4 linked regions of the Homo sapiens genome follow. The protein of the gene in region 1 purifies or fractionates together with the protein of each later gene. This does not show direct contact. Each region holds a gene or a part of one and is shown in the gene's direction. Other genes may lie near its edges. The genes, in order: ITGB8, GINM1, LMF1 and B3GNT2.

Region 1 (7,212 bases):
CCAATTTTTAATCCATTTATTTGTTTGCTTCATTACAGAATGTTTCTCCAGCCCAAGCTACTTGAGAATATTTTTCATCATTTTCATAGTTACATTCTTGATTGGGTTGCTTAAAGTCCTGATCATTAGACAGGTGATACTACAATGGAATAGTAATAAAATTAAGTCCTCATCAGATTACAGAGTGTCAGCCTCAAAAAAGGTCAGTGAATTCTAAAAAAGAACTGCTAACAGTATGTTATTGCCTAGTTACAATATTTAGGCCCTTAGTTAATAATAATATTTCTTCTCTATTAAGGATAAGTTGATTCTGCAAAGTGTTTGCACAAGAGCAGTCACCTACCGACGTGAGAAGCCTGAAGAAATAAAAATGGATATCAGCAAATTAAATGCTCATGAAACTTTCAGGTGCAACTTCTAAAAAAAGATTTTTAAACACTTAATGGGAAACTGGAATTGTTAATAATTGCTCCTAAAGATTATAATTTTAAAAGTCACAGGAGGAGACAAATTGCTCACGGTCATGCCAGTTGCTGGTTGTACACTCGAACGAAGACTGACAAGTATCCTCATCATGATGTGACTCACATAGCTGCTGACTTTTTCAGAGAAAAATGTGTCTTACTACTGTTTGAGACTAGTGTCGTTGTAGCACTTTACTGTAATATATAACTTATTTAGATCAGCATAGAATGTAGATCCTCTGAAGAGCACTGATTACACTTTACAGGTACCTGTTATCCCTACGCTTCCCAGAGAGAACAATGCTGTGAGAGAGTTTAGCATTGTGTCACTACAAGGGTACAGTAATCCCTGCACTGGACATGTGAGGAAAAAAATAATCTGGCAAGTATATTCTAAGGTTGCCAAACACTTCAACAGTTGGTGGTTGAATAGACAAGAACAGCTAGATGAATAAATGATTCGTGTTTCACTCTTTCAAGAGGTGAACAGATACAACCTTAATCTTAAAAGATTATTGCTTTTTAAAGTGTGTAGTTTTATGCATGTGTGTTTATGGTTTGCTTATTTTTGCAAGATGGATACTAATTCCAGCATTCTCTCCTCTTTGCCTTTATGTTTTGTTTTCTTTTTTACAGGATAAGTTTATGTATGTCACAGATGACTGGATTAATTAAGTGCTAAGTTACTACTGCCATAAAAAACTAATAATACAATGTCACTTTATCAGAATACTAGTTTTAAAAGCTGAATGTTAATAGGGGACACTGTAAAGTATCATCAAAACCTGAATAGCTTCATTGTGCACAAGTGTGGAGTTTTGTATCCTCTTACCTGGTAAACTGAAGGGATTGTTTGGCCATTTCATTTATCTTATCATTAATTCACAAGATAGTTAGAAATTCTGCCTCAAGCAAAGTACCACATTTTGAATGTTTTCTTAGATTTTGATTGCAAGTAGATATCAGCATTTTTTAAATGAAAAGCTATATTATCTTCTCCCTTCAAGGCAGCCTAAGGATGTTCTTTCCCAGAATCACTCCAACCCTTCTTGCCAGAATTCATAAAAGTACAAAATTGGAGAATAGATGATATCTTAGAAATAAGCTTTTTTTTTTTTTTTTTTTTTTTTTGAGACGGAGTTTCACTCTTGTCACCCAGGCTGAAGTGCAATGGCGCAATTAGGGTTCACTGCAACCTCTGCCTCCCGGGTTCAAGCAGTTCTCCTGCCTCAGCCTCCTGAGTAGCTGGGATTACAGGCATCCACCACCGTGCCCAGCTAATTTTTGTATTTTTAGTAGAGACGGGGTTTTGCCATGTTGGACAGGTTGATCTCAAACTCCTGACCTCAGGTGATCTACCCTCCTCGGCCTCCCAGAGTGTTGGGATTACAGGCATGAGCCACCATGCCAGGCTGCTAATTCTCCTTTTTAGTGAGTTAGGGAACTGAGCCTCAGAAAACTTAAACGATTTCTCAGAAAACACTCAAGTGATAAAGTGGCCACATTGGAAAGGAGTTTTTATCTTCTCATTGTCAGGCCAGTGTTCATTGCACAATATCATGCTACCTCTTGAATCTTTAAAATATTCAATTGGCAAATGTTTTTCAATGTGATTTACTCATGTCTTAAGTGTATGAGGAAAGTTCAAAGCAAAATAGAAAGGAATAATTCAAACTGAATTGTCCATAATCAGCTTCCAGTCTTTCATGCTAATCAGCTTCTTAAGAGACTGAAGTATGGCATACCTACAGGGGAATTCCTTCGCACCATAGCCTGTATGAACAGTGTTCCCTGGAGTTCTCCAGTGCTCAGCTTGAGACCTTGATACACGGGCCATGAGCCCTGTCTTCCCCAATGGAAATTTATTTACACTTACCTTATCCCTATGGACTTAGTCTGATTTTATTGGCTAGGAGTCTAACAGTCCTGTGTGGATATACAGTTTTGCCCATGACAACAAAGGAATCTATCCGAAATATCTTTTTTTTTATAATAAACTTCCAAGATTTGCTGTCTTCCAGCACTTGAGTTAAAGTACTAGATACTGCATTTTGATGAAGACTAACCCCATCTCATATTCTACCCTAAAGAGAACTGAAAAACCTATAATAAGTTGTTCTGGAGCCAATAAACACAGCAGCTCTGTTAGATGTCCTCTACAGCCAAGCACTTTCAATGCTAACTTGAACTGCATTTCCTTCCTCAAATGAGAGATTGACATAATTCAGTACTGTGAGTCACTTGTATAAGAAACCTTTGATCACTAAAAATAATGTAAAAATTGGGTTTAGTAGCCTAATACACATAACGTTCTTCTTAAAAAGGAAAATGGATGGATGCCTGACAACCCTCCAAAAGAAAAAAGTGTAAGATAGCCATTAAGATGATGACAATTTTTGAAATGAACATTATGATATTTATGAACAATAAACAAATTTCCGTATGGAATGAATTATCCAAAAAGAGTATAACAAAATGAAATCCTTAAAAATCCAGAGTTTATATTTTTTTTATACCCTCACTTGTTTGCACTAACTTTATAGTGGACCAAGGCTGTTACCATAGGAAGGGACAAACTTCCTTGTAGGCAACTCAGTGTTAGACGATGATTGTGGTTATGCTTGCAAAGTCTTGTGCTTATCTTTTTTGTTTTTACTTAAAAAGCTAATTTTTAAAGATTGTAGGGCTTGTATTTTACTTGAATAATTGATATCTTCCTGTGTAATGATTTGTGAGATGAGAATTAATATTTGACTAGTTAGAATTAATTAAATGGTAAGGGAACACAGGGTACTCTTAGGTTAAATAATGTATGCAAATAGAGTCTATTTTCAACTAATATGGCCACAGGAGCCTTTTGAGATTCATTGATATTAAACACAATTAATGAAATTTTAAATTGTTAACAGAATTGAGAACTTGAACAACACTTTTAGTACTGCAGCATTTTTGTGCCCTAAAGTATGTAATGATTTATAAATGTGCCATACATACACTACAACATAACATTTGCTTTGTTATGCATTTTATTTCTCTGGGGACACCATTGCACTGCAGTGCACACGTATTTATAAACATTTGTTATATTTTTGGAAACTTGCTAATATTTATTAAGTCATAGACTTTTCTGGAGGACTTAAAAATTCACTAAAAATCTGATTATGTCTTAAATGTTCAGTTTATCTTTGGTTTATTAAAATAAAAAAAAAATCTAAGATTAAACACAGTAGATATCTCTGGAGGCAATTTTCCAAAACTCAACATTAAAATTTGTGGATGCATGAGATGCAATCCTTCAAAGAATGAATCTGAAATATATTTTTAATATTTACTTAATATCCACTGAAGATATCTTTATGCAAGACAAGAGTCAGCCATCAGACACTGAAATATATTATGATAGATTATGAAGAATTTTCTCTGTAGAATTATATTCTTCCTGGAACCTGGTAGAGTAGATTAGACTCAAAGGCTTTTTCTTCCTTTTCTTACTCCTGTTTTTTCCACTCACTCTTCCCAAGAGATTTCCTAAAGCTTCAAGCTTAATAAGCCTAATAGTGAAAAATAACTGAATTTAATGGTATAATGAAGTTCTTCATTTCCAGACATCTTTAATTGATCTTAAAGCTCATTTGAGTCTTTGCCCCTGAACAAAGACAGACCCATTAAAATCTAAGAATTCTAAATTTTCACAACTGTTTGAGCTTCTTTTCATTTTGAAGGATTTGGAATATATATGTTTTCATAAAAGTATCAAGTGAAATATAGTTACATGGGAGCTCAATCATGTGCAGATTGCATTCTGTTATGTTGACTCAATATTTAATTTACAACTATCCTTATTTATATTGACCTCAAGAACTCCATTTTATGCAATGCAGACCACTGAGATATAGCTAACATTCTTTCAAATAATTTTCCTTTTCTTTTATAATTCCTCTATAGCAAATTTTTATGTATAACTGATTATACATATCCATATTTATATTTCATTGATTCCAAGACATCACTTTTTCAATTTAACATCTCTGAAATTGTGACATTTCTTGCAACTGTTGGCACTTCAGATGCAGTGTTTAAAATTATGCTTGAATAAATATTACACTAATCCAACTTTACCTAAATGTTTATGCATCTAGGCAAATTTTGTTTTCTTATAAAGATTTGAGAGCCCATTTATGACAAAATATGAAGGCGAAATTTAAGGACAACTGAGTCACGCACAACTCAACATGGAGCCTAACTGATTATCAGCTCAGATCCCGCATATCTTGAGTTTACAAAAGCTCTTTCAGGTCCCCATTTATACTTTACGTGAGTGCGAATGATTTCAGCAAACCCTAACTTAACTAACAAGAATGGGTAGGTATGTCTACGTTTCATTAACAAATTTTTATTATTTTTATTCTATTATATGAGATCCTTTTATATTATCATCTCACTTTTAAACAAAATTAACTGGAAAAATATTACATGGAACTGTCATAGTTAGGTTTTGCAGCATCTTACATGTCTTGTATCAATGGCAGGAGAAAAATATGATAAAAACAATCAGTGCTGTGAAAAACAACTTTCTTCTAGAGTCCTCTTACTTTTTATTCTTCTTTATCATTTGTGGGTTTTTCCCCCTTGGCTCTGATCACTTTAACTTCAAGCTTATGTAACGACTGTTATAAAACTGCATATTTAAATTATTTGAATTATATGAAATAATTGTTCAGCTATCTGGGCAGCTGTTAATGTAAACCTGAGAGTAATAACACTACTCTTTTATCTACCTGGAATACTTTTCTGCATAAAATTTATCTTTGTAAGCTAACTCTATTAATCAGGTTTCTTCTAGCCTCTGCAACCTACTTCAGTTAGAATTGTCTAATACTGCTCTATTAATCAGGTTTCTAGCCTCTACAACCTACTTCAGTTAAAATTGTCTAATACAGCAATATTTAAAAAAAAAACACTGCAATTGTCAAGGATGGAAAATGTGTGATTTGTGTAAACAATTTTTACCAACTTTACATTTTCCTACAGATAAATGTGAAATTTTGATAAGAAGTCTACGCAATGACAAGTATGGTACATAAATTTTATTAAGAATATTGAGTATAAAGTACTTTAATTCTAAATTATAAGAAAATATACATTTGCACATATTAATATAGAAATTCATTTTGTGTATATTTAACATAGCTTTTAAACTATTTTACATTAGCTACTTCATTATGGTTTCTTGAACTTCTGAAAAAAATTAGAAATGTATTAAACTTATCAGTAACATAAAAACTTATTTTGTTTCACCTAACGAATACTGCGTTTGTAAAAATAAATTTAATATAGAATATATTTTTAAATTAAATATTTGAATATAAAATAGCTCTAAGAAAGAAGCAAATTATCACTGAACATATTTCTTATTATTTCTGGCTTTGAATTATACGTAACTTAAATTGTCTTAAATGATACAGAATATTGGAGAATATGATACTTTCACATAATATACTATGAACCTGTTCATATAACTCTGATTGACTACTAACTTCTGTTTTATGTATTTATTAAAGAGCTGACACTGTAGTTTGTGGTGAGATGTTTATTTTTCTAACAGAGCTTATAACAGTTAGGACAAGGCATTTAATTAATGCATCATTCTGTTTAGTAGTAGGTGTTAATCAATATGAAATTCTCTGTTTTAAAATAAAAATGTAAAAATCTAAGAATATGCAAAACGCTTCCTTATTTACTTTGTGTTACATTAATCTCAAAGCTTCCAGACAACAGTACTTTGTCCCCCAAGGAAATGTAATAGCATCTATACACTGTCATTAGCAGAGGACATTACATAATTCCAAAAAGATATTACTCCTAGAAAATTGTAGGGCCAATGATAAACAGGGGAGGCCATCCTAGTTGTTCTTTTCCTTTTTGATAGTTATTTGCAGTAGAAACAGAAGAAATATTCTAATGACAAAAACCTGAAAAAAATAGCTAAAAGTTAAAACAGGCATTTTCCATGTGCCAGAGACTTCTACCACCACCTTAGGTGTGACACATTCATAACCTTCAATTGCACATTCTCAAGAGTCAGGCTTAAATTAATTGAATTTTATTGAATACCCATGTATTGTGATTTTTCTTACCCTAGAGAAGAGAATAAAGCAGAATGTGGTAGATACTGAGATCAGCTCAGTCGTGGAGACCCTAACCCAGCGGCGCCAGAGGAATTAAAGACACTCACACAGAAATACAGAGTGTGGAGTGGGAAATCGGGTCTCACAGCCTTCAGAGCTGAGAGCCCCAAACAGAGATTTACCCACATATTTATTGACAGCAAGCCAGTCATAAGATTTACTAAAAGCATTCCTTACGGGAAATAAAGGGATGGGCAGAAATAAAGGGATGGGTCTGGCTAGTTATCTGTAGCATGAACATGTCCTTAAGGCACAGATCGCTCATGCTATTGTTTGCAGTTTAAGAACGCGTTTAAGCAGTTTTCCACCCTGGGTGGGCCAGGTGTTCCTTGCCCTCATTCTGGTAAACTGACAACCTTCCAGCATGGGCATCAAGGCCATCAAGAGCATGTCACAGTGCTGCAGAAATTTTGTTTATGGCCAGTTTTGGGGCCAGTTTATGGCCAGATTTTGGGGCCTGCTCCCAACAGATAGATATATTAAAAATGAAATAAGACATTTAGACAGATTAGCTGTTCTTAAGGAGCTTTTAATAGTTTGAAGGAAAAGATAAAGTGTAA
Region 2 (9,740 bases), on another chromosome or scaffold:
ATACAGAAAATAGGCAAATACAGTTAATACATATGGCTATGAAGTTGCCTGTCATTTTAGCACCAACTGAGGTAAACAATGATAAAGTGAGGCTTTTATATTCTAGTGAATTAAATAAAGTGAATCCTGACTTAAAAGAAGAAAATCCACTCCCAAGAGGGAAATCCACTGAAGGCAGAGGAAAGACACCCTACACTCTGCTTCTGCTTCCAAGTGGAGGCTTCTTTCATTTCTAAAGGTGATTTAAAAAGTCAAATAAGGCTGGGCACGGTGGCTCACACCTGTAATCCCAGCACTTTGGGAGGCTGAGGCAGGTGGATCATGACATGGTCAGGAGTTCAAGACCAGCCTGGCCAACATGGTGAAACCCCGTCTCTACTAAAAATACAAAAATTAGCCAGGTGTGGTGGCAGGCACCTGTAATCCCAGCTAGTCGGGAGGCTGAGGCAGGAGAATTGCTTGAACCCGGGAGTTGGAGGTTGCAGTGCGCTGAGATCGTGCCACTGCACTCCAGCCTGGGTGACAGAGCAAGACTCCATCTCAGAAAAAAAAAAAAAAGTCAAATAAGACAAATGAAAATGGCATCTTACCACAAATATAACCTACTTATCTGGGTTACTGAATATGAAATGATCTCTAAACAAACTCTTCTTGCAGTATCTGTTACAGATGTTCTATTTTTTAAAACCTGAAACCTGATAAGATTTCTTATTCCTTAGGATACTTATTTTAATCTTTTTTTTTTTTTTTTCAAGGCGGAGTCTCGCTGTGTCGCCCAGGCTGGAGTACAGTGGCTAGATCTCGGCTCACTGCAAGCTCTGCCTCCCGAGTTCATGCCATTCTCCTGCCTCAGCCTCCCGAGTAGCTGGGACTACAGGCGCCTGCCACCACGCCCGGCTAATTTTTTGTATTTTTAGTAAAGACAGGGTTTCACCGTGTTAGCCAGCATGGTCTCGACCTCCTGACCTCGTGATCCGCCTGCCTCAGCCTCCCAAAGTTCTGGGATTACAGGGGTGAGCCACCGCGCCCGGCCCTTTAATCTTTTATCTTCAGGATTTTTATTAGGGTACCAAATATTAAATTATAGTATGATTTTTAGCATCCTTGAGTACAAACGTCTCTGCAGATTTTCAGGTTGTTGAAACTAGTTAGCTGAGGGAGCAGAGAGCAGGGTCTGCATCTTGGCCCTGGAGCCCCTCTAGCTCCTGTGATGGTGGAGAAGGCATAGCTCTCTTACACTTTACTGTTTCTCCATTTCTCCCAACACAGCTTATATATATATATATATATATATATATATATATATATATATATATATATATATATTTTTTTTTTTTTTTTTTAAGACGAAGTTTCACTCTTGTTGCCCAGGCTGGAGTGCAATGGCGCGATCTCGGCTCACCGCAACCTCTGCCTCCCGGGTTCAAGCAATTCTCCCGCCCCAGCCTCCTGAGTACCTGGGATTACAGGCATGCGCCACCACGCCCAGCTAATTTTTGTGTTGTTAATAGAGACGGGGTTTCTTGAACTCCCGGCTGGCCTCGAACTCCCGACCTCAGGTGATCCGCCTGCCTCCACCTCCCAAAGTGCAACCCAGCTCATATTTTTAGAAAGCTAATGAGTAGAATAATTTATAATCATCTCTATAAATGTATATAAATTAACTAAATGCCTTTTGTTTCATTATACTGTGTTGGCTTAGAATGCCAGAGTTTAAAACCACAGCTTCATCATTTACTGTTCTGTAACTCAGAGAAAAACACTTAATTTCTATAAATTTCTGTTTTGTATATAAAAATGGGATAATAAATTGTAATCATGTCATTAGGCTGTTATAAGGTTTAAATAATATACATAAAGCACTTAACACAATTAGCATAATAAATGCTGGCTACTACAATGATAATATTTCTATGAGTTGTTCTTCATATGAGAGGCATCACCCATCATTATGAGCTAATTAAATTCATTCATAAATATATGGACAAGAAAGTTACAGCAAAAGCAGTTTTAAAATATTTTAGGCCAGGCACAGTGGCTCATGACTGTAATCCCAGCACTTTGGGAGGCCGAGGCAGGTGGATCACCTGAGTTCAGGAGTTTGAGACCAGCCTGGCCAACGTGGTGAAACTCCGTCTCTATTAAAAATACAAAAATTAGCTGGGCGTGGTGGTGGGCACCTGTTATCCCAGCTACTTGGGAGGTTGAGGCAGGAGAATCGCTTGAACCTGGGAGGAGGAGGTTGCGTGAGCTGAGATTGTGCCATTGCACCCTAGCCTTGGTGACAAGAATGAAACTCTTGTCTCAAAAAAAAAAAAAAAAAAAAAAAGTGGCTCATGCCTGTAATCCCAACATTTTGGAAGGCCGAGGCAGGAGGATTGCTTCAGCTCAGGAATTCAAGACCAACCTGGGCAAGCTAGCAAGCCCTCGTCTTCACTTAAAAAAAAAAATTAGCAGGGCATGGGGGCATGTGCCTACAGTCCCAGCTACTCAGGAGTCTGAGGTAGGAAGATGGCTTCAGCTCAGGAGGTCAAGGCTGCAGTGAGCCATGATCTATCTTGCCATGGCACTCCAGCCTGGGTGTCAAAGCAAGACCCTGTCTCAAAAAAATAAAATATAATATCTTTGTTTCTTGCTCTCCCTCTTGTCATCTTCTAGGGGTCTTTCAAAAAGTTCAAAAATATGTAGATGACTAACTCTGGAAAATACTGGAGTAGACTGTGTTGTAATAGAAGTGCAGTGACTCACTCACTCCCAGAAACTGGAAACAGATACAAATCAGGTCCCAGATTTCCTTTTGGCATCAAGCCTGCTTTAAATTGCAGAAAAAGATGGACTCAAATTTTGATTGTGGGAATGATGAAAATGACAATGAAATCGGCTACTGAAAAAGGAAATATATCAAGGTTTGGAATCAAAAGGTATTATCTGGTGAAAGAATAAAGACATTTTAATATATACTTTGTTTTCTGTAGTATTAGAAATATTTTAGAATATCTTCTCCTATATGAAAGATTACCTTCAAAGAAGAGAAAGCATCTAATGTGCACAGAACCGCAGTGGGTTGCTGTCAGGCAACTTGAACTCTTTTTATGATAGAGGATATCAAGTTGACATGAGCTGACTCAAAGGAACATCAAAGTACTCACCGTATTAACATTGACAGATTTATTTGTCGTGTAAGCAACTGCCAAGTTAATTCTGTCTTTTGTTTCTCAGATTAATGTGAAGGCTCAGTAAACCAAGCTGAGTTTTCCAATGGACAAGTGGAACTCAGCCACAAAGCTTGTTTAAAGTTTTGTTGTAACTCATTAGAGTTGTGGTATGGTGCTTTTTCCCCAAATGATGGGGTTTTTTAAATGAAATTCCGTAGCGCTCATGGGTGCATGTAGCAAAACAATGGCCTAAAGAGAACCATTTCATACAAAACAGTAAAATTTTTGATTATTAAATAATACTGTCAACCACTTAGACATTATTTGTCCAACAAACCCCCACTGAGGGCTTACTCTAGCAAGCTGTTTGCTTTAAGGTTTGGCCACCCTCTTCCTGGAGCTCACATCTATCTGACGAGACAGATAAACAATAAAGAATAATGGACAGTTAGACCATGGGAAAGGCTTTGTAAGAAAACAGAGAGCCTCAACTTTACCTATTATCTTTTCATATAGACGTACTTTGTAACCTTATATTACTAATTCAAATTATACAGATCCACATGTCATGTTTTCTGACTTCCAGATTCTTTTTTTTTTTTTTGGAGACGGAGTCTCGCTCCACCGCGCAGGCTGGAGTGCAATGGCGCGATCTTGGCTCACTGCAACCTTCGCCTCCTGGGTTCAAGCGATTCTCCTGCCTCAGCCTCCCTAGTAGCTGGAATTACAGGTGCGTGCCAGTATGCCTGGATAATTTTTGTATTTTTAGTAGAGATGGGGTTTCACCATGTTGGCCAGGCTATTCTCGAACTCCTGACCTCAAGTGATCCACCCGCCTCGGCCTCCTAAAGTGTTGGGATTACAGGCGTGAGCCACTGCACCCGGCTTCTAGATTCCTTTTTTTTTTTTTTTTTTTAATAGACTCAGGCGATCCTCCTGCCTGCGTTTGCTGCATAGCTGGGAGTACAGGCACAAATGACCACGCCCATCTCCAAATTCATTTTTAATTCCAGCAGTAGGAAAAAAAGGAAAAGGCCAAGTTTGCAGATGGAACCCAGAAGTGTGTGGGGCTTCGCTGTGAAATCACTTGTAGCTTAACAATGGCGTGGGGAATCTCAGAGTAAGCCCGGAGTTAGTTGAAAGGAGTCTTTAGCCAAAACGTTTATAATTTATTCTGGGGCGGGGCCGGGGGAGGGGGCGGTGGCGGTCAGCAGGCCTGTGGGAGGAGGGTGTTCAAAGGAGTAAAGGGGGCTCAAAGAGAGAAATAGATTCTTGTTTCCTTTTTCATGTCAAAAGTTTTATTTCATGTCAAAAGTTTTATTTCAAAGGAAGACTAAATATTACTCTTATTCTGCCTGAATGGCCAAGTTTCCAAGTTTTTCTCAATCAACATGCAATCCTGTTAATCTAAAATGCTTGAATTTCTTGCTACTCTGCTTTACAGGGTTCCGTAACTTTTTTTTTTTTTTAAATCTGCAAGGTGGAAGAAAAGTCTAACACTTTCACTTTAGAGTTACGATACTGACCAAAAAGGCACTGACAGCCCAGGTGCGCTGGCTTCCTTCCAGCTGAGCGCTGTCCCCGCGCCGCCTCCAGGGGTCGGCAGAATGCTGAACAGTAAGCATGGCGCATCCTCAACCTTGGCCCCACAATGAATCACCCGAGAAAATTAAAAAACCACCAGGGCCCGAGCCGCAGCCCAGGCTGGAAAGTGGGGTGTTCAGGAAGACCCCAGTACTTTTTAAAGCTGCCCGGGAGAGTCCCACGTGCAGCCAAGGGTGGGGAATTACCCACTTAATAAAAACTTCCCCTGTAAATGCGATGTTTCATTTTTAATGTATAACAGTTTTCTGAAATATTACCGTTGTTTTCATCGTATAGGTACATGTACATGTGCACACACAGACACATGCATGTGTGTAAATACTAATTTTAAAAATAATGGTTACGAGGACATTTACATCGCTCCAGTTGGAGTCCTGTCCAATCCTGAGGGCGGGTCTAATGAGGGGCCGTACCTTCCAAGATTTCACTCCGCCCCTCGACGCCGCGCGGCGCTGCGCGTGCGCAAACGCCTTTCCCTGGCGAGCCGGATCTCGGAGCGTCCCCGCGCCTCTCCGCGGCCGCCCGGGGAGGGGAGGGCCCGTCCCGCCCCTCCCCGTCTCTCCCCGCCCCTCCCCGTCCCTCCCGCCGAAGCTCCGTCCCGCCCGCGGGCCGGCTCCGCCCTCACCTCCCGGCCGCGGCTGCCCTCTGCCCGGGTTGTCCAAGATGGAGGGCGCTCCACCGGGGTCGCTCGCCCTCCGGCTCCTGCTGTTCGTGGCGCTACCCGCCTCCGGCTGGCTGACGACGGGCGCCCCCGAGCCGCCGCCGCTGTCCGGAGCCCCACAGGTAGGGCAGGGCGGGCCTGGCTGGCCGCTTTACGACTCCGACTCTCCGGGAGGCCCGGGCTGTCCACAGTGACGCTTCCCACATCCCACCGGCGGGCAGGGGCGGGGGTCCGGGCCCCCGAAGGAGGTGTGGGGAGAAGCACCCCAGGAAATGGGGGCGGCGTGGGAGGCCGAGGTAAGAGGAAAGGGACCCACTGGGGCTGCGTCGCTGTGAGTGAGCCTCGAGCCACTCCACACCGACTCTCCGGCGGCCCAAGCCGGCGCGCGACCTGACGGGGCTTTGCCGTCGAAGCGCGCGGTTGCCGGTGATCAGGCCTTCGTAATGGCGCCTTCCCGGGGTAGAGCCAGCGCTTGGGCAAGGAATGTTTGTGTGCTCGGGAAGTGTGGAAGTTGCCCACTTCGCGCATTTCCAGGCCACTTGTGCCTGCTCGGCCTGCGATCGCGAGGGTCCGCCGTTCCGAGGCTGCGGGGCTCCGCCGGGCTCAGGTGGGCAGAGGGAGAGACCTGGCCCTCGCGCGACGTAATGTTTTTGTCGGATGTTGGAGGAGAAGTTCTCACGGCGGGGCGCGATCGGCGGTGTCCGCATCCCCTGGGGACTCAGCCCGGCCTCTGGGGGCGGGGCCCAGCAGTCCGGGTTGGAGAGTCCTGCAGGTGCTTCTGATGCCAGCTGAGGTGGGAGAATCGAGGCATCCTAACATTAAAACGTGGCTGATGCTCACCATTCCTGCCGTAGAGTCGTGCCTACCTAGGCCAGTATCAGCCTTTTTTCAGTAGAATGGTAGGGAAAAGTTTGAATATTTTAAAGAGCAAGTGTTCTGAGAATGACAAGAAACTATGTCGGTACACCTCTTCCTAGTCAAGACTTGAATATGAACACTCTAAATACAAAGGCGAAGGGCACGGTAAGTGTCACTTTGACCAACAAGGTGAAACCCCGTCTCTACTAAAAATAGAAAAATTAGCTGGGCGTGGTTGCAGGTGCCTGTAGTCCCAGCTACTCGGGAGGCGGAGACAGGAGAATTGCTTGAACCCGGGAGGCAGAGGTTGCAGTGAGCCGAGATCGTGCCACTGCATTCCAGCCTGGGTGAGGGAGCTCAAAACAAAACAAACAAACAAAAACAAAAAAACCAAGTGTTAACGTTTTAGGATAATGACATTACCCCACGTGGGTACAAAAATGATGAGCATGTCTCAGTTCTGCAGGGCATTCCAAGAAGCCACGACATTGCCTGCCATAAGAACCACCTATATCTGAAATTATATGTGGACCACAGTTGCATCTGGTTAAACAATAGGAATGTGATGGACAGGCACCAAGGGACCAAATAAAAGTGAAATAGTTCTAAAAAGTTCTGGAAATACGGACATTATTTTCCTATTTTTCAAGTTTTAAAGATTCATAATTGACACCTATGTGTCAATGAGATGTTTACGTCTATATAATCTGCGAAAAATACATTTTGACTGCAGGCTTAAAATACACTGCATTGTCGGCTGGCTCTTAGTGATGATTTTACTATTTCAGTTCTCCCTTCTTGGGCCTTCATTTCACTTTCAGAAAGTCCAGATCTAAACTCGGAAATTCACATATTACGCTGGGTGCAGTGGCTCACGCCTGTAATCCCAGCTACTGGGAATCCAAAGCCAGAGGATTGCCTGAGACCAAGAGTTGGGTGTTGGATGATAAGCCTGGTTAACATAGCAAGAGCCTGTCTCAACAACAAAAAGTTTCACAGATTAAATGAGTGCTGAACAACTAGAAAGAGAATCTCATTACCTGGACTGTGTCTGTGGGAAACTGAAGTCCCTTGATCTAAGTCTTCTCAACGTCTTATTGTGAAACATTTCCAATAGGAAAGAATTTCACAGTGGTCCCACATATTGTGTAAGTGCTGTCCAGTAGAACTTTCTGCCTTGATGGTTATGTCTTTTCTCACCTTGTGGGTAGCCACTAGACTGCTGTGGCCACTGAGCACTTGAAATGTGGCCAGTGCCAGTGAGGAACTGTTTTTAAATTTTTATTTAATTTTAATCAATGTAAATGTAAATAGTCACAAGTGATTAGTGTGTACCATATTGAACAGTGCAGAACCAGACTACCCTTAACATTACTAGCTTTATCACATCTGTCCATCCTCGTTTCCAGTCTGATATAAATTAAACTGGTTGAAGTCAGGAAAATTCTGCCTTCTTCCGATGACTCAGATTTATTGGACTATAAGCATTTTTCTGTTTTTATGTATGCAGTTGTCAGAAGTTGAGGTAATACAAGATTGCACATAAGATTGAAAAATAAAAGTCTTTTTTTTTTTGAGACGGAATATCTCGCTCTGTCTCACACAGGCTGGAGTGCAGTGGCATGATCTCGGCTCACTGCAGCCTCTGCCTCCCAGGTTCAAGTGATTCTCCTATCTCAGCCTCCTGAGTAGCTGGTACTACTGGCGCGTGCCACCACACCTGGCTAGTTTTTGTATTTTTATTTTTATTTTTTTATTTTTTGTTTTTTATTTTTGAGAGAGAGTCTCACTCTGTCTCCCAGGCTGGAGTGCACTGGCATGATCTCGGCTCACTGCAACTTCTGCCTCCTGGGTTCAGGTTCAAGTGATTCTCCTGCCTCAGCTTCCCAAGTAGCTGGGATTACAGGCTCCCGCCACTGCGCCCAGCTAATTTTTTTATATTTTTAGTAGAGATGGGGTTTCACCATGTTGGCTAGGTTGGTCTCGAACTCCTGACCTCAAGTGATCCACCCGCCTCAGCCTTCCAAAGTGCTGGGATTACAGGTGTGAGCCACTGCGCCCGGTCACTTTTTTTTTTTTTTTTTGACGTGAAGTCTCGCTCTGTCCCCCATCCTGCACAGTGCAGTGGTGCAATCTCGGCTCACTGCAGCCTCTGCCTCCCGGGTTCCAGCGATTCTCCTGCCTCAGCCTCCCAGATAGCTGGGATTACAGGCACGTGCCACCATGCCTGGCTAATTTTTGTATTTTTAGTAGAGACGGGGTTTCACCATGTTGGCTAGCTGGTCTCAAACTCCTGACCTCAGGTGATCCACCCGCCTCAGCCTCCCAAAGTGCTAGGATTACAGGCATGAGCCACCATGCCCGACCGAAAAATAAAAGTCTTTATAGTAAATTCTTCTAATACTAAAATAACTTGGTCACCAAAGAGAGGCATTCGGAGGACACTTACTTTCTTGTATGCATAACTGTATATTTCGCTCAGACGTATTTTAAACCAGCTGTCTATTACCTTTATTCTTAGGAAGACACTTATGTCCCCAGTGGGCATCCTATGAGTAAAGGAATTAGAAGAATTGAAGATTTTTAGGGAGAAACTTTTCAGTGTCCCCAAGCACTTTTTAAGTATATGCAACCCTGGCTTACGAGCCTGAACTTCCAGTTCAATCAGAAGTTCTCAAGAACAATAAATATGACCTGGCTCTGAACTCCTGGCCAGGGGGCAGTAAGGAGTGTGATTCCCTTTTGCAGTGAAATCATTCAGAAAGACCAGAAAATAATTTTGTTGTACTTGGTTCTCTGGAAAATATAGTGTGCTTGTGTCTGTTAATTGTCTTTTTCAAACTCTGTAATTTTACTAGGTAGGTTTTATATATATATATATATATATATATATATATATATATATATATATATATATATATATATATAAAGTTCAGTAACTTGCTAACAATATAGTGTTCACTGCTAAAAGGCAGAAGCTATAAAATGGTTTCCTAGAACAACATTGGAGGCTTACTTCTGGGCTGTTAGAAGAATAATAGTTTATAATTAATACATTCTCTAGTTTGCAAAGGAGATCCATATGACTTGAATTTGGACACAAAACAATGTAGCTATCAATCTCATAGCTCATTGAATGTGGATTTGTTTTAGATGCACTATTGGTTCTAACCGTCTAGATCAAGGTGAGCCAGGAAAAAGCTGGCTAGTTCTGAGGAATTTCTAGTTAGAAAGCTTCCTAGGCTCCTAGTTGGGAAGTGAACCAAAGTCACCCTAAATGTATGATGTTGGTCTTGTGTGGTATGAATCCTCTTTCACAAATTATTCCTGGAATCAGCTCGACCTCATGAAATTTCATCAGTCTTATTCTCTCATTTGTGGGAAATTATATATAAAGTATTTAGGATACTCAGGGCCAGCAGATATACTTGTATATTCTTTTTGATGTTTATGAACAGTTT
Region 3 (8,857 bases), on another chromosome or scaffold:
GTGGTCACTGATTTTGTCACTATGGACCCACGCCCATTTATTTTCCCTCTGGGTCGTGATCCCGTGCTGTCACCGTGAGTCTGTGTCTGGGTCGTGATCCCATGCTGTCACCGTGAGTCTGTGTCTGGGTCGTGATCCCGTGCTGTCACCGTGAGTCTGTGTCTGGGTCGTGATCCCGTGCTGTCACCGTGAGTCTGTGTCTGGGTCGTGATCCCGTGCTGTCACCGTGAGTCTGTGTCTGGGTCGTGATCCCGTGCTGTCACCGTGAGTCTGTGTCTGGGTCGTGATCCCGTGCTGTCACCGTGAGTCTGTCTGGGTGGTGATCCCGTGCTGTCACCGTGAGTCTGTGTCTGGGTCGTGATCCCGTGCTGTCACCGTGAGTCTGTGTCTGGGTCGTGATCCCGTGCTGTCACCGTGAGTCTGTGTCTGGGTCGTGATCCCGTGCTGTCACCGTGAGTCTGTGTCTGGGTCGTGATCCCGTGCTGTCACCGTGAGTCTGTCTGGGTCGTGATCCCGTGCTGTCACCGTGAGTCTGTGTCTGGGTCGTGATCCCGTGCTGTCACCGTGAGTCTGTGTCTGGGTCGTGATCCCGTGCTGTCACCGTGAGTCTGTGTCTGGGTCGTGATCCCGTGCTGTCACCGTGAGTCTGTGTCTGGGTCGTGATCCCGTGCTGTCACCGTGAGTCTGTGTCTGGGTCGTGATCCCGTGCTGTCACCGTGAGTCTGTGTCTGGGTCGTGATCCCGTGCTGTCACCGTGAGTCTGTCTGGGTCGTGATCCCGTGCTGTCACCGTGAGTCTGTGTCTGGGTCGTGATCCCGTGCTGTCACCGTGAGTCTGTGTCTGGGTCGTGATCCCGTGCTGTCACCGTGAGTCTGTGTCTGGGTCGTGATCCCGTGCTGTCACCGTGAGTCTGTGTCTGGGTCGTGATCCCGTGCTGTCACCGTGAGTCTGTGTCTGGGTCGTGATCCCGTGCTGTCACCGTGAGTCTGTGTCTGGGTCGTGATCCCGTGCTGTCACCGTGAGTCTGTCTGGGTCGTGATCCCGTGCTGTCACCGTGAGTCTGTGTCTGGGTCGTGATCCCGTGCTGTCACCGTGAGTCTGTGTCTGGGTCGTGATCCCGTGCTGTCACCGTGAGTCTGTGTCTGGGTCGTGATCCCGTGCTGTCACCGTGAGTCTGTCTGGGTCGTGATCCCGTGCTGTCACCGTGAGTCTGTCTGGGTCGTGATCCCGTGCTGTCACCGTGAGTCTGTGTCTGGGTCGTGATCCCGTGCTGTCACCGTGAGTCTGTGTCTGGGTCGTGATCCCGTGCTGTCACCGTGAGTCTGTCTGGGTCGTGATCCCGTGCTGTCACCGTGAGTCTGTGTCTGGGTCGTGATCCCGTGCTGTCACCGTGAGTCTGTGTCTGGGTCGTGATCCCGTGCTGTCACCGTGAGTCTGTCTGGGTCGTGATCCCGTGTTGTCACCGTGAGTCTGTGTCTGGGTCGTGATCCCGTGCTGTCACCGTGAGTCTGTGTCTGGGTCGTGATCCCGTGCTGTCACCGTGAGTCTGTGTCTGGGTCGTGATCCCGTGCTGTCACCGTGAGTCTGTCTGGGTCGTGATCCCGTGCTGTCACCGTGAGTCTGTGTCTGGGTCGTGATCCCGTGCTGTCACCGTGAGTCTGTGTCTGGGTCGTGATCCCGTGCTGTCACCGTGAGTCTGTCTGGGTCGTGATCCCGTGTTGTCACCGTGAGTCTGTGTCTGGGTCGTGATCCCGTGCTGTCACCGTGAGTCTGTGTCTGGGTCGTGATCCCGTGTTGTCACCATGAGATGGTGTCTGGGTTGTGATCCAGTGTTGTCACCGTGAGTCTGTGTCTGGGTCGTGATCCCGTGCTGTCACCGTGAGTCTGTGTCTGGGTCGTGATCCCGTGCTGTCACCGTGAGTCTGTGTCTGGGTCGTGATCCCGTGCTGTCACCGTGAGTCTGTGTCTGGGTCGTGATCCCGTGCTGTCACCGTGAGTCTGTGTCTGGGTTGTGATCCAGTGTTGTCACTGTGAGTCTTTGTCTGGGTTATGATCCAGTGCTGTCACTGTGAGTTTGCTGCTCAGCTCCTCCAGCTTTGACCACTGGTGGGTTTCCCCTCCTTCCCCGCAGGGATGCTTCCGGCCCAGCTTCTGTTTCTCTGCCCCAGCCCTAGAATGAGTTGTTTCCAAGGAGCCCTGGTTCTTTTTAGGGGAGCATAGAAACTTCAGTCTGGGCACTGGGAGGGCCGTTGCTCCCGGGGTGTCACAGCTGCTGGCCCTCTTCCTGGGTAGAGCTAGGCTCTGTGTGTCACTATCTCATTTCACACATTTGATTGCTTCTCTGTCGTATCCACCTATCCATCTGTAAGTATACGAAGGTCAACCTGGTCCATGCCGATGACTCTGACTCTCACCTGGCACACGGTGTATTCCAGCCTTCCGTCCTGGAACATGGTGTATTCCATCCTCCCGTCCTGGCACACGGTGTATTCCAGTCTTCCCTGCTGGCCCATCTGAATCCTCCCTCTCTGCTAGTGGGAACCTGGCTCCCCTGACTCCTCTAGCATCTGCTCAGCCCTGGTGCACGTGCGAGAATTGTCCACCCAGGCCCGGGGGGGAAAGCCCTGGAGTGCAGCGTTTGTGTACAGCTCCTTCTGGCCTTGCGGTCTCCACTCAGAACATTTTCCGGAGTTGCTTAGGCGGCTCCTGCCCTCTGGCCAGTGTGTTTCTGTTTCACATCCGTGCGTGTGGAGCCTGTATTCTATCTGCATCCCCCAACCTCCTGGTCGGGTCTTCCCCCAATAGTTTGTGCACATTGAAGTTCATCTCGTGTAATGCTCAGTGCTGTGGGCTTTGCCTCCATCACCCCAGCTCCAGCCCCAAGTCCCCCGTGCATGGGAGTGACCACTTCCCCTGCACCAGCCCCTGGCACGCCCGGGTCTGTCTCCCGTCCCTCTGGTTTTGCCTTTTCCAGTGTGACATACGAATGAAATCACGCAGTATATAGCCTGTTGGGTCTAGATTCTTTTGCTTAGCAAAATGCACTTAAGATTCATCCATGTTATTGCCTGAACCAACAGCTGCATTCTTATCTCTGATTATTTTTCTGTTGCACAAATGCACCTCCGGTTATTTATCCACTTCCACCGTGAAGGATGTCTTCCTTGTTTCTAGTTTTTAGTGGCTATGAACAGAGCTGCTATGAGCATCTGCATGAGGCTTCTGTGCGAGCACACTTTCAGGTTGAAGGCCTGAGAGGTGCAGTAGCTGATTTGTAAGGTAACCCTTCATTATCTGGGTCAGATGCCACCGTCTGCCATCCACAGTGGTAGGCCACAGCATCCCCGGCACAGCGAGGGCACTCCTGCTGTCCCGAACCTTCTGCAGCATTGGGCACTGTCCATGTTCGTGTTTTTTTTGTTTTGTTTTTTTGGTTTTTTTTTTGAGACAGTCTTACTCTGTCGCCGAGGCTGGAGTGCAGTGGCGCTGTGTCGGCTCACTCCAACCTCCGCCTCCTGGGTTCAAGCAATTCTCCTGCCTCAGCCTTGCGAGTAGCTGGGATTCCAGGTGTGCACCACTATGCCCAGCTAATTTTTGTATTTTTAGTAGAGACGGGGTTTCACCACATTGGCCAGGCTGGTCTTGAACTCCTGACCTCAGGTGATCTGCCCACCTCGGCCTCCCAAAGCGCTGGGATTACAGGCATGAGCCACCGCGCCCGGCCTGGGCACTGTCCGTTTTCAAGCACTTCGGCCATGTGACGTGTGTGTGGTGACAGCACGCTGTGGTTTTCATGGGCATTTCCGCAGTGATGAAGGATGTTGAGCATCTTTTCACGTGTTATTTGCCATCCGTACACCTTCCTATGTCTGTTCAGACCTTGTGGCCTGGTTTTTTCTTCCCACCTTTAACATTGGGTTGTTTGTTTTCTAATTATTGAATTTTAAAAGTTCTTTAAATATTCTAGATACAAATCCTTTATCAGATGTGTGATTTGCCAGTATTTTCTTCCAATCTGCGGCTTGTGTTTTCATTCTGTTAAAAGTAGCTTTTGCAGATCAAAAGTTTTTCAGTTTGATAAAGTTCAATTTACAGTTTCTAATTTCATAGATTATGCTTTTGGTGTTGTATCTAAAAACTTGTTGCCAAACCCAAGTCACATAGATTTTCTTCTATATTTCCATCTGGAAGTCTTATGCTTTTATGTTTTACATTTAGGTCTATGATCCTTTTTGGTTAATTTTTGTGTAAGGTGTGAAGTGTGTTCAGGTCCATCTTTTTGCATGTGGACATCCATCTGTTCCAACATGATTGTTACAGAGACTCTTCTTTGTTTTTTTATTTATTTTGTAGAGACTGAGTCTCACTATGTTGCCCAGGCTGCTCTGGAATTCCTGGGCTCAAGCGATCCTCCTGCCTCAGCCTCCCAAAGTGCTGGGATGACAGGTGTGAGCCACCACGCCCGGCCCAAGGCTGCTCTTTGTCTGTGTAGTTGCCTTTGAACCTTTGTCAGAATTTGTTCACTCTGTGTGTCGGGTCGGGGGCAGGGGGGCTGTGTCTGGGCCGTCTCTTCCATTCCATTGAGTTCTGCGGCTCTTCCTTAATCAATACTGCGCTGTCTTGATGTGGTCTTGATTAGCTTTTTAGTAAGTCTTGAAATTGGGTAACATGAGTCCTCCACCTCTGTTCTTTTCCAGATGATTTTGGCTTTTTAATCCCTTTGCTCTCCCATGTATATTCTAGAATCAGCTTGTCAGCCTCGGCGGAAGCACTGACTGGGTGTTTGGTTCAGATTGTGCCGAATTTATGGATCAAATTGACACCTTAATGATTTTGATTTTTCCAATCCATGAACATGGTCTATCTCTTCATATAGTTAGATCTTGTTTCATTTTTTTAATCAGTGTTTTGTAGTTTTCCATGTGCAGATTCCGTTTATATGTTTTTAGATTTATAAATGCATGGGGAAAAGTACATGTACTAGCTTCCTACATGTCTACACAGACACTCACTCCAAACCAGCATGCACAGTTACACAGACATGGACCCCAAGCCAGATTCCTACACGCAGTAGGAAGCCGCATGTACTTGTGGGGTTGCTCTTGTGATATTGTTATCATTATGCAATATCTTCTTTCATCCCTGTGTCATTCCTTGTTTGTAAATTGATTTTTTTCCTTTTGAGATGGAGTCTCTGTTGCCCAGGCTGGAGTGCAATGGTGCCATCTCGGCTCACTGCAGCCTCCCGGGTTCAAGTGATTCTCCTGCCTCAGCCTCCCAAGTAGGTGGGACTACCGGGGTGCACCACCACATCCGACTAATTTTTGTATTTTTTAAGTAGAGACAGGGTTTTGCCATATTGGCCAGGCTGGTCCCAAACTCCTGACCTCAGGTGATCCACCCGCCTCAGCCTCCCAAAGTGCTGGAATTACAGGCGTGAGCCACCGTGCCCGACCCTTAAATCTACTTTTTTTTTTTTTTTTTGAGATGGAGTTTTGCTCTTGTCGTCCAGGCTGGAGTGCAGTGGCGCAATCTTGGCTCACTGCACCCTCCACCTCCCAGGTTCAAGCCATTCTCCTGCCTCAGCCTCCTGAGTAGCTTGGATTACAGGTGCCTGCCACAACGCCCAGCTAATTTTTGTATTTTTAGTAGAGACAGGGTTTTTCCATGTTGCCCAGGCTGGTCTCAAACTCCTGATCTCAGGTGATCCGCCTGCCTTGGCCTCCCAAAGTGCTGGGATTACAGGCGTGAGCCACCCTGCCCAGCCCTTAAATCTACTTTTTATGATGTTAATAGAGCCACTTCCACTTTCTTTTGTTTGTATTTTTTATTTTTATTTTTAATTTTTTTCAGCCATGATGAATTAGATCCAGCTTTCTTTTGATTCACATTTGAATGGTGTATCTTTTTTACTTTCAACTGCTTTTTCATTCTTCACGTTTACACATGGGAATGTGCTTCTCTCACCTGTCAGCATCTCTGGGTAAGCATTCAGTGTTCTACAAATACTGACGTCCAGAGGATGTGAGAGAGCTGTTGTGGGTGGGCGCCGTGGGACATGAACTCGGAGACCTGTGGATGTGAGAGAGCCGTCGTGGGGTGGGCGCCGTGGGACGTGAACTCGGAGACCTGTGGATGTGAGAGAGCCGTCGTGGGGTGGGCGCCGTGAGACATGAACTCGGAGACCTGTGGATGTGACAGTGCCATTGTGGGGTGGGCGCCGTGAGACATGAACTCGGAGACCTGTGGATGTGAGAGAGCCGTCGTGCGGTGGGCGCCGTGAGACGTGAACTCAGAGACCTGTGGATGTGAGAGAGCCGTCGTGGGGTGGGCGCCGTGAGACGTGAACTCGGAGACCTGTGGATGTGAGAGAGCCGTCGTGGGGTGGGCGCCGTGAGACGTGAACTCGGAGACCTGTGGTCTGCGTAGAGGGCAAGTGTGGCTCACCTATAGGCAGTAAGTGTCAAGCCCTGCAGCGTGTGCTGGGAGTGATGCCGTTGACCAGAGCCAGGGTCCTCAGGGTGTGTTTCATAATGGTGAATGCTGAGTGCAGTCCGGTTGGTCAGCTGGCTGTCTGTGTGTAGCCAGGCACGCAATTTATATACACATGTCTACTTTACTTCTATGTGTGTGCGTGTATACACACTGCATCTGCTGCAGACACGGAATTTATATACAAGCATCTAGTTTGCTTCTATGCGTATGCGTGGATGCACACACTGCGTCTGCTGCAGGCACCCATTTTATGTAACGTGTCTGGTTCACTTAGATGTGTGTGCGTGTATGCACACACTGCGTCTGCTGCGGGCACGCATTTTATGTAACGTGTCTAGTTTACTTAGATGTGTGTGTGTGTGTATGCACACACCGCGTCTGCTGCAGGCACGCATTTTATGTAACGTGTCTGGTTCACTTACATGTGTGTGCGTGTATGCACACACCGCGTCTGCTGCGGGCACGCATTTTATGTAACGGGTCGGGTTCACTTAGATGTGTGTGTGTGTATGCACACACCGCGTCTGCTGCAGGCACGCCTTTTATGTAACTTGTCTAGTTTACTTAGATGTGTGTGTGTGTATGCACACACCACGTCTGCTGCAGGCACGCCTTTTATGTAACTTGTCTAGTTTACTTAGATGTGTGTGTGTGTATGCACACACTGCGTCTGCTGCAGGCACGCATTTTATGTAACTTGTCTAGTTTACTTAGATGTGTGTGTGTGTGTGCACACACCGCGTCTGCTGCGGGCACGCATTTTATGTAACGTGTCTAGTTTACTTAGATGTGTGTGTGTGTATGCACACACCGCATCTGCTGCAGGCACGCATTTTATGTAACGTGTCTGGTTCACTTAGATATGTGTGTGTGTGGATGCACACACCGCGTCTGCTGCGGGCACGCATTTTATGTAACGTGTCTAGTTCACTTAGATGTGTATGCGTGTATGCACACACCGCGTCTGCTGCAGGTTGGCTTTTCCAGTGTTTCCCCCAAAATCTTGAGAAAGTACTCAGACTCCTGAGTCTAGGGTTTGGCCCCAAACCGTCAGCCAGACTCTGCCTCCCCTTCCCGCCTGCCTCGCCCCGCATTCTGAGCTGCGCCCATGGTGTCCACATGTGGTTTGTTCCTAGTCATGCTTGTTTTGTCTTCTTTTTCTTCCAGTCGTGGCATTCCTGGTGGCTTTCCATCAGAACAAGCAGCTCATCGGTGACAGGGGGCTGCTTCCCTGCAGAGTGTTCCTGAAGAACTTCCAGCAGTACTTCCAGGACAGGACGAGCTGGGAAGTCTTCAGCTACATGCCCACCATCCTCTGGCTGATGGACTGGTCAGACATGAACTCCAACCTGGACTTGCTGGCTCTTCTCGGACTGGGCATCTCGTCTTTCGTACTGATCACGGGCTGCGCCAACATGCTTCTCATGGCTGCCCTGTGGGGCCTCTACATGTCCCTGGTTAATGTGGGCCATGTCTGGTGAGTAGCAGGAATGGGGCGGTCGGAGCTTAGGGCTTGCTGTCACTCAGCACAGGCACTGCAGGTGTCCTGGCACTTGGAAAGACTGGACGAGCGTTTATCTTAAATTCCTTCAGGAGGGTATTGTCATTTTACTTAGGCCATGGCAGAGCGGCCAGTGCACCAGCCACAGCAGCCACCCATCTTCAGGATTAAAACCCCACCTCTTTGCAGTAGCTCTTCCTTACTTAAAGGACTGCGTTGCCAGCTTACTGGAGCCAGAGGGATGGGGAAAGGGAGGCAGAAGCAGTGGGTCTGTGTCTGTGTGGACGTGTAGGAGGCTGGTTTGGGGTGGGTGTCTGTGTGGACGTGTAGGAGGCTGGTTTGGGGTGTCTGTGTGGACATGTAGGAGGCTGGTTTGGGGTGGGTGTCTGTGTGGACGTGTAGGAAGCTGGTTTGGGGTGGGTGTCTGTGTGGACGTGTAGGAGGCTGGTTTGGGGTGTCTGTGTGGACGTGTAGGAGGCTGGTTTGGGGTGGGTGTCTGTGTGGACATGTAGGAGGCTGGTTTGGGGTGGGTGTCTGTGTGGACATGTAGGAGGCTGGTTTGGGGTGGGTGTCTGTGTGGACATGTAGGAGGCTGGTTTGGGGTGGGTGTCTGTGTGGACATGTAGGAGGCTGGTTTGGGGTGGGTGTCTGTGTGGACATGTAGGAGGCTGGTTTGGGGTGTCTGTGTGGACGTGTAGGAGGCTGGTTTGGAGTGGGTGTCTGTGTGGACGTGTAGGAGGCTGGTTTGGGGTGTCTGTGTGGATATGTAGGAGGCTGGTTTGGGGTGTCTGTGTGGATATGTAGGAGGCTGGTTTGGGGTGTCTGTGTGGACGTGCAGGAGGCTGGTTTGGGGTGGGTGTC
Region 4 (6,974 bases), on another chromosome or scaffold:
AAGCCGAGTTCTCATGCAAGACACTGTGCCCAGGTCACAAGTGCACGATGACATTTAACCTTGATGGAAATGTGCAGTTGAGAATCTTGTTTTCTCCACCTTCCTCTTCAGATTGGCTTGAAAGAAATACCCTTTAGCAAGTAATGGGAAGAGTTGCCTCAAATTGAGCCTTTGGGAATCTGAAGTCTTTTACAAGAAAGGCTGATCTGTTTCCTGAGGTGGGGCTGGGAGCTTGTAGGTGCCCCCATTTCTCTTTCTTTGGAGCCTCTTTAACTATCAATGTACCATGATCCCGTGCCATAATCAGCCTGTGGGACTTCACTGTTGACCTGGTCCAGGTAACTAGAATGTGGTTGAGCCTCATAGAAAAAAGAGATCCAGAGAGTCCTGGATTGGGAGCCAGAAGGTGGTCTTGTCTAAGCCTTGTCACGTAACTCTTCCATAATATTCAGGCAAATCATCAGTCCCCTCTGAGCTTCCATTTTCTCCTGGTAAAGTGGCATCCCGTGCAATGAGAAATGAGCAGGAAAATGCCCTGCGGGCTGGAGGCCTTGAGCACTTAAATGAAAGTTGAGGGTGGTGTTCCCGGGAAGGCCATTCATTAGTCCCTGTGTCTTGAGCCAAGGTGATGTGAGAACTGTACCTTGACGTGGCCTTGATTGAGGAAATAAAAGGCTGAATTGTAGCAGATGAAGTTGGAAATCTTGCCAGGGGTCAGCAAGCTTATTCCTCAAAGCATCCTCAAAAGAAGGATTGGTGTTTTCCGTGATAGAGGCTTCAAGTGGTTATGGCTGGATTCCAGTTATTCATGGCCTCTCCCATAATCTAGATGTATAAACTTGTTAAATTATCTGGAGTCATTTTTACATGTTATTCACTCTGTATCTTTCCTAGGAGAATTAGCTCTGGAAGTTCACAGCCTCCTATGTAAAGTACTGTGCTTCCCTTTTTTCTTCCCTAAGCTGTCCTCTTTTACTCCAGAAATTTTGGTAAAGGTCTATTAATGTTTAAATCCCTTTACTGAGTTAAATTTTTGCCGGGTATTAAGCTGTTCATAGTATGTGCTGTTTTTTCCTGAGTAGTTTTGCTCTGTCACCCAGGCTGGAGTGCAGTGGCACGATCTCAGCTCACTGCAACCTCAGCCTCCCAAGTAGCTTGGACTACAGGAGTGCACCACCATGCCTTTTTTGTATTTTTAGTAGAGGCAGGGTTTTGCTGTGTTGGCCAGGCTGGTCTCAAACTCCTGGCCTCAAGTGATCTGCCCACCTCGGCCTACCAAAGCAAAGTGCTGGGTTTACAGGCGTGAGTCACTCTGCCTGGCCCCTTTGCAAATCTTTTTCTTCATTGTAGTTTTTCACCATCACACATTTCCTGTTGCCCTTCCTTCCAGACTAGGAAGGGCCTGAGACCTAGAGACAGCAGTACTGGGTCAAGGGCTCACTTTAGCATTAGGAGAATTGTCCCAAGTTAGAGAGAACCTTTTCTTTTTGAGAAGTATTTGAGAAATAACTGGAGTTATCACGGAAGTCTCCAAAGGTATGAGGTTAGGTTTTTCAAGAGTAGTTTTGTGGGCAGGGGACCAGGGAGTGGGTGCTGCTGATTGGCTGTGGATGCAATCAAAGCCATGTGCTGAGTCTGCAGGGGTTGGGGGGAGTCATGAGTCTCTAGTCTGGGTGGGGTAAGTCTGAGAAACATTCAGAAGACCAATCTTAGTTTCTATAATAGTGGTGTTAACTACAGGAGCACTTGGGGAAGTCAAAGATCTTGTGGCCTCTGGCCACATGACTTCTGAGCAATACGGGATTATAAAAACTGTGCTTACATTTTAGCAGAATTCAGGCCCCTCTCAATCCTAATCTTGTGACCTTTCATTAGCCTCAGCCCCCTGAACAAGGAAGGGATCAGTTTTATGGAGGGACTGTTACCATCTTTGCTTCGAAGTTAAACTGTAAACTAAATTTCTCCCGTGGTTAGCTTGGCCTATGCCCAGGAATGAGTGGAGACAGCTAGCCTGTGAGGGTAGACGCAAGATGGAGTCAGCCATGCTAGATTTCTTACTGTCCATAATCTTTGCAAAGGTGGTTTCAGCAGTAGTAAATACAAGCAACCAGATAAAGGTCTACTAGGCAGATCTTTACAGACACACAATAGCTTGTGAATTCCTGTTGATCTCATCTGGGCTCTCTAATATGTAATAGTTTTACAGCATTCTCAGCATGACAAATATTTTTCTACTTTACCGTTTGTTAGAATCCAGTGAACTTAAAAATCCTCTCCTTTCAAAAAGCAAATACTAGATTAAAATAGTTGCAAAGCTTTCTTTTAGGGATTGGAGAAGTGTAGCTACCTTTTGGCATGGTACAGACTTGGAATCTGTTTGCCTTGGCTGGTATTCCAGTCTGCCCTTCTTTAAATGTGTACCTCCTCAGGTATAAAATGGGAATGAGTAATAGTACCTAAGGATAAATTCCCAGTTGAATTAACCTGATAAGAAAATCTTCAGCTCTTTATAGAACATTGCCATCCCACTTTTTTGGGCTATCTTTTAATGTCACCTTGGTTTAAATGTTCATTCTTGTATAGGTCATCCATGTCAATAGTGTTAGAACCTTGGATATCCCCAGCAAACCATCTCATTACTCATTCTTTATTCTTCCATTGCCCACAGCCTGAAATCTTTTGATATTTCACTAAAATATCATTTGTATTTCCCTTTTTGCTACAAACAATAGAGATCTTAAATATACACTTCAGGTTTGACATATGCATACATCCGTGGAGCCTTCATCAGGATCAAGACCTACATGGTACATTTCTGTACCCCAGGAAGTTCCTTCCTATCCTTCTCTAAGCCCACCACCTCCATCACTTTCAGATTTCTAGAACCTAAATTCATTTTGCCTGTTCTTGAAGTTAATATAAATGAAAATTTGGGTCTGGCCTTCATTCACAATGTAATGTTGTAATGTTTCATCCACAATAGTTTCCCTTTCTATTGCCGAGGGGATATACCATTGTATGCAGATGCCACAGTTTGATCATCTGTTCTGTTGATATTGGGCTGTTGCCAGTTCTTGGCTATTGGGATAAAGCTGTCCTGAGTCTGCTTTCATTTTCTCTGTCTGAGATGCTCTGTGGTTCCTGTCTCCTGCTTCCTAGCCCTGCAACCTTGGGCAAGTGTCTTAATCTCTCTGCTTTGGTTTCCTTATCTGTAAAATGGTAGGTTGGAAAATAACTCAGGGTTGGGACTAACATTAAAAAAAAGAGAGAGAGATAGGGTCAGACATGCCTATAATCCCAGCACTTTGGGAGGCTGAGGTGGGAGGATCACCTTAGGTTGGGAGTTTGAGCCCAGCCTGAGCAACGTAACCAGTCCCTGTTTCTACATTTTAAAATCTCAAAGTTTTTCAAATGAAATAGAAGAGAACTTGAGAGTGAATGACATGGAACTGCACACAATGCGTCACACATGTAAATAGAGTTTTGTGTATGTATGTGTATACTAAACACAGTATAAAAATGTATTTGTTATAATTTAGGCAAATCGGTTTGCCAAGCACTGTATGTGCCATTGTAAGCAAGGAAGTTGAACTCTCCTGAGGTTATTTAGTAATAGGTATTTCTAGCTTCAGCATGTCTCAAACAGTCACTTACATAGTGCTTGCTGTGAGCCACGCGCTATTTTAAAAGCTTTCCATATAACATCATATACTCACAACCATCCTTTGAAGTGGGCTTGATTCCCATTTTATATATGGAGAAGTTGAGACAGGGACTATCCCACTTGCCCATGATCACAAAGCTAGAAAGGAAGGGCCAAGATTTGAACCTAGGCAGTGCAAGTGTAGAGTCTTTGCTGTAAACCACTATTCCTGGGGAGACAGGTAAAATAAATTGTATGTGCAAATGCAAATTGATAAGTAATTGATACAATACTCCACCCCTTTATTCCAGATATGAGAAATGAGTGTTGGACGTCGAAGAATAAAGTTGTTGGGTATCCTGATGATGGCAAATGTCTTCATTTATTTTATTATGGAAGTCTCCAAAAGCAGTAGCCAAGAAAAAAATGGAAAAGGGGAAGTAATAATACCCAAAGAGAAGTTCTGGAAGATATCTACCCCTCCCGAGGCATACTGGAACCGAGAGCAAGAGAAGCTGAACCGGCAGTACAACCCCATCCTGAGCATGCTGACCAACCAGACGGGGGAGGCGGGCAGGCTCTCCAATATAAGCCATCTGAACTACTGCGAACCTGACCTGAGGGTCACGTCGGTGGTTACGGGTTTTAACAACTTGCCGGACAGATTTAAAGACTTTCTGCTGTATTTGAGATGCCGCAATTATTCACTGCTTATAGATCAGCCGGATAAGTGTGCAAAGAAACCTTTCTTGTTGCTGGCGATTAAGTCCCTCACTCCACATTTTGCCAGAAGGCAAGCAATCCGGGAATCCTGGGGCCAAGAAAGCAACGCAGGGAACCAAACGGTGGTGCGAGTCTTCCTGCTGGGCCAGACACCCCCAGAGGACAACCACCCCGACCTTTCAGATATGCTGAAATTTGAGAGTGAGAAGCACCAAGACATTCTTATGTGGAACTACAGAGACACTTTCTTCAACTTGTCTCTGAAGGAAGTGCTGTTTCTCAGGTGGGTAAGTACTTCCTGCCCAGACACTGAGTTTGTTTTCAAGGGCGATGACGATGTTTTTGTGAACACCCATCACATCCTGAATTACTTGAATAGTTTATCCAAGACCAAAGCCAAAGATCTCTTCATAGGTGATGTGATCCACAATGCTGGACCTCATCGGGATAAGAAGCTGAAGTACTACATCCCAGAAGTTGTTTACTCTGGCCTCTACCCACCCTATGCAGGGGGAGGGGGGTTCCTCTACTCCGGCCACCTGGCCCTGAGGCTGTACCATATCACTGACCAGGTCCATCTCTACCCCATTGATGACGTTTATACTGGAATGTGCCTTCAGAAACTCGGCCTCGTTCCAGAGAAACACAAAGGCTTCAGGACATTTGATATCGAGGAGAAAAACAAAAATAACATCTGCTCCTATGTAGATCTGATGTTAGTACATAGTAGAAAACCTCAAGAGATGATTGATATTTGGTCTCAGTTGCAGAGTGCTCATTTAAAATGCTAAAATAGATACAAACTCAATTTTGCATAGAAAGGTGTATTTTGAATAGTTCCCATGTTGTGTTCTCACATTAGAGTAATTTCTATATTAAACCATGAAAATTGCCTTTATGAGTGATACCCATTTGAGGGCCTCTAAACCCTTCAATTTGGTACTCACGTGAAGAGGGAAAGCGGAAGATGGTAATTTTTTTTTATGGATGATATGGCAGGATGATTGGTTCTGATCTTACCGGCTAGTGGTCATTTTTAAAAAACTTGTACCCTCTTATCTGAAATCCTGTTTCTGGAATTTGGCCATTTTAAGTGATTTTGTTTGCCCTCTTCTATAATATTCCTACTTCCCATAATAATGACTGATTTATTTGTAATTCAGGTATTTATAAACCTATTGGCTACAAAGACTTTGTTAAACATTATCCAGTGGTTTTCGTGAAATGGAATTATGTTTATTTTTATGGGATTTGGGTAAATTTTAAATTGTCTAGAAAACTGAAATTTCAGTTGTCAGTTGTGGAATTCAGTTTTTCAATTGTGGAAATTTCCTGCCACCCCAACAGTATTTTTGTGTGTTAATTAATTTTGCAAAATGAGAATCATGGTGTGACACTCATCTAATTTATCTTGTTGTGATGTTATGGTCATAATAAGGAGAAAGAGGGTTTAATTTTTCTTGTATTTGGTTTCCTGGTGGTATCATAGTGTAATTTTAGTATTTGAAAATCAGTGTGATTCCTTAATGGCCAACTGAAGATTGAATTGCCGCTAACAACCATATCGTGTTAGTGAATTTTCAATATGGACCAGGAAGGCATATGTATTTTGAACTTGAGTGAAAAGGTTGAAGTTACAGACTTTTGCATAGATGGTTTGTCAATTTAAAATTCCAGAATTTATTATTGCCATATTTTCACATGCTGCTTATACAAGATTATTATTGAGTAGTAACTGCTTCCCTGTCTATGTAGAAGTGCCTGTGTTTTTATTTATTGTTCAGATCAAAGACCAAAACATTTTCTTAAATATATTTTATGTAATATTTTATTTGTATACAGTGTTGTTGATGAAATATTTAACTAGAGCATGATATTTTAAATGTTAAGGTGTAACATATGTTAAATAAAACTGTTATTTTTGAATTTTAAAATTTGTTTTTTGGGGGTATGAACTACTAGAGTTTAAAATTCTGCCAAACTATTACTTATATGTACTATTGTGTAACATACTTTCTTGAAATATTTTTGTTTATAGAATTGAAGGTTCTTATCAGATGGGATACTGGGGACTATAAACAATGGAAATAAAGCCACTGTATTTTTAATTTTTTGTGTAATGTGTAATCTATAATCCTTTTGTTTCCCATATTTGAGAACATTTTTCCCTGAAAGAGGCCAGTTTCCTCCCCAGAAACCATTACAGTAGTGTTGAACTATCACTGTCTCTCAGTGCGTCATCCATCTTTGCATTTAAAATCCCCAAAGTGCTTTCCCATTTAAAGTCTTTAAAGAAAAGTGAGAATATTTATTTATGCTTCCATTTTCAGTGAGTATAAATAATTTAATTAGGGAGTGGTGTGGCATTGTAAAGATTGTGTTATCCTAAGCCATTTCTATTTTGGAGTTTGTAGCCACAAAGATGAAATATAGAATCAGCCTTGACTACTCAATTTCCTTTCATAGACCCATGTTGAGAAGACACTACTAACGTCCAGTGGGAAACAAGTAGACAATTGATGAAGCTCAAAAAACAGAAGGGTTAGTGTTGTAAGAGCAAACAGTCTAATCCTGTTTGGAATGTGGAAGCCATTTCTGAGCAAGTATG

The links.
Region 2: the proteins of ITGB8 (region 1) and GINM1 purify together in Homo sapiens (affinity purification with mass spectrometry; 3 studies listed by BioGRID and IntAct, with this or other methods). This does not show direct contact.
Region 3: the proteins of ITGB8 (region 1) and LMF1 purify together in Homo sapiens (affinity purification with mass spectrometry; 3 studies listed by BioGRID and IntAct, with this or other methods). This does not show direct contact.
Region 4: the proteins of ITGB8 (region 1) and B3GNT2 purify together in Homo sapiens (affinity purification with mass spectrometry; 2 studies listed by BioGRID and IntAct, with this or other methods). This does not show direct contact.

Annotation. Positions count from the first base shown.
Region 1 is NC_000007.14:20,409,577-20,416,788, forward strand, and holds the end of ITGB8 (integrin beta-8 precursor), read left to right. Parts: intron 1-38; coding exon 39-202; intron 203-298; coding exon 299-421; 3' UTR 422-6,178; downstream 6,179-7,212. UniProt on the Homo sapiens protein: Integrin alpha-V:beta-8 (ITGAV:ITGB8) is a receptor for fibronectin. It recognizes the sequence R-G-D in its ligands.
Region 2 is NC_000006.12:149,560,992-149,570,731, forward strand, and holds the start of GINM1 (glycoprotein integral membrane protein 1 precursor), read left to right. Parts: upstream 1-5,383; 5' UTR 5,384-5,423; coding exon 5,424-5,543; intron 5,544-9,740.
Region 3 is NC_000016.10:953,472-962,328, reverse strand, and holds part of LMF1 (lipase maturation factor 1), read left to right. Parts: intron 1-7,662; coding exon 7,663-7,972; intron 7,973-8,857. UniProt on the Homo sapiens protein: Involved in the maturation of specific proteins in the endoplasmic reticulum. Required for maturation and transport of active lipoprotein lipase (LPL) through the secretory pathway. Each LMF1 molecule chaperones 50 or more molecules of LPL.
Region 4 is NC_000002.12:62,218,258-62,225,231, forward strand, and holds the end of B3GNT2 (N-acetyllactosaminide beta-1,3-N-acetylglucosaminyltransferase 2), read left to right. Parts: intron 1-3,954; 5' UTR 3,955-3,963; coding exon 3,964-5,157; 3' UTR 5,158-6,474; downstream 6,475-6,974. UniProt on the Homo sapiens protein: Beta-1,3-N-acetylglucosaminyltransferase involved in the synthesis of poly-N-acetyllactosamine. Catalyzes the initiation and elongation of poly-N-acetyllactosamine chains. Shows a marked preference for Gal(beta1-4)Glc(NAc)-based acceptors.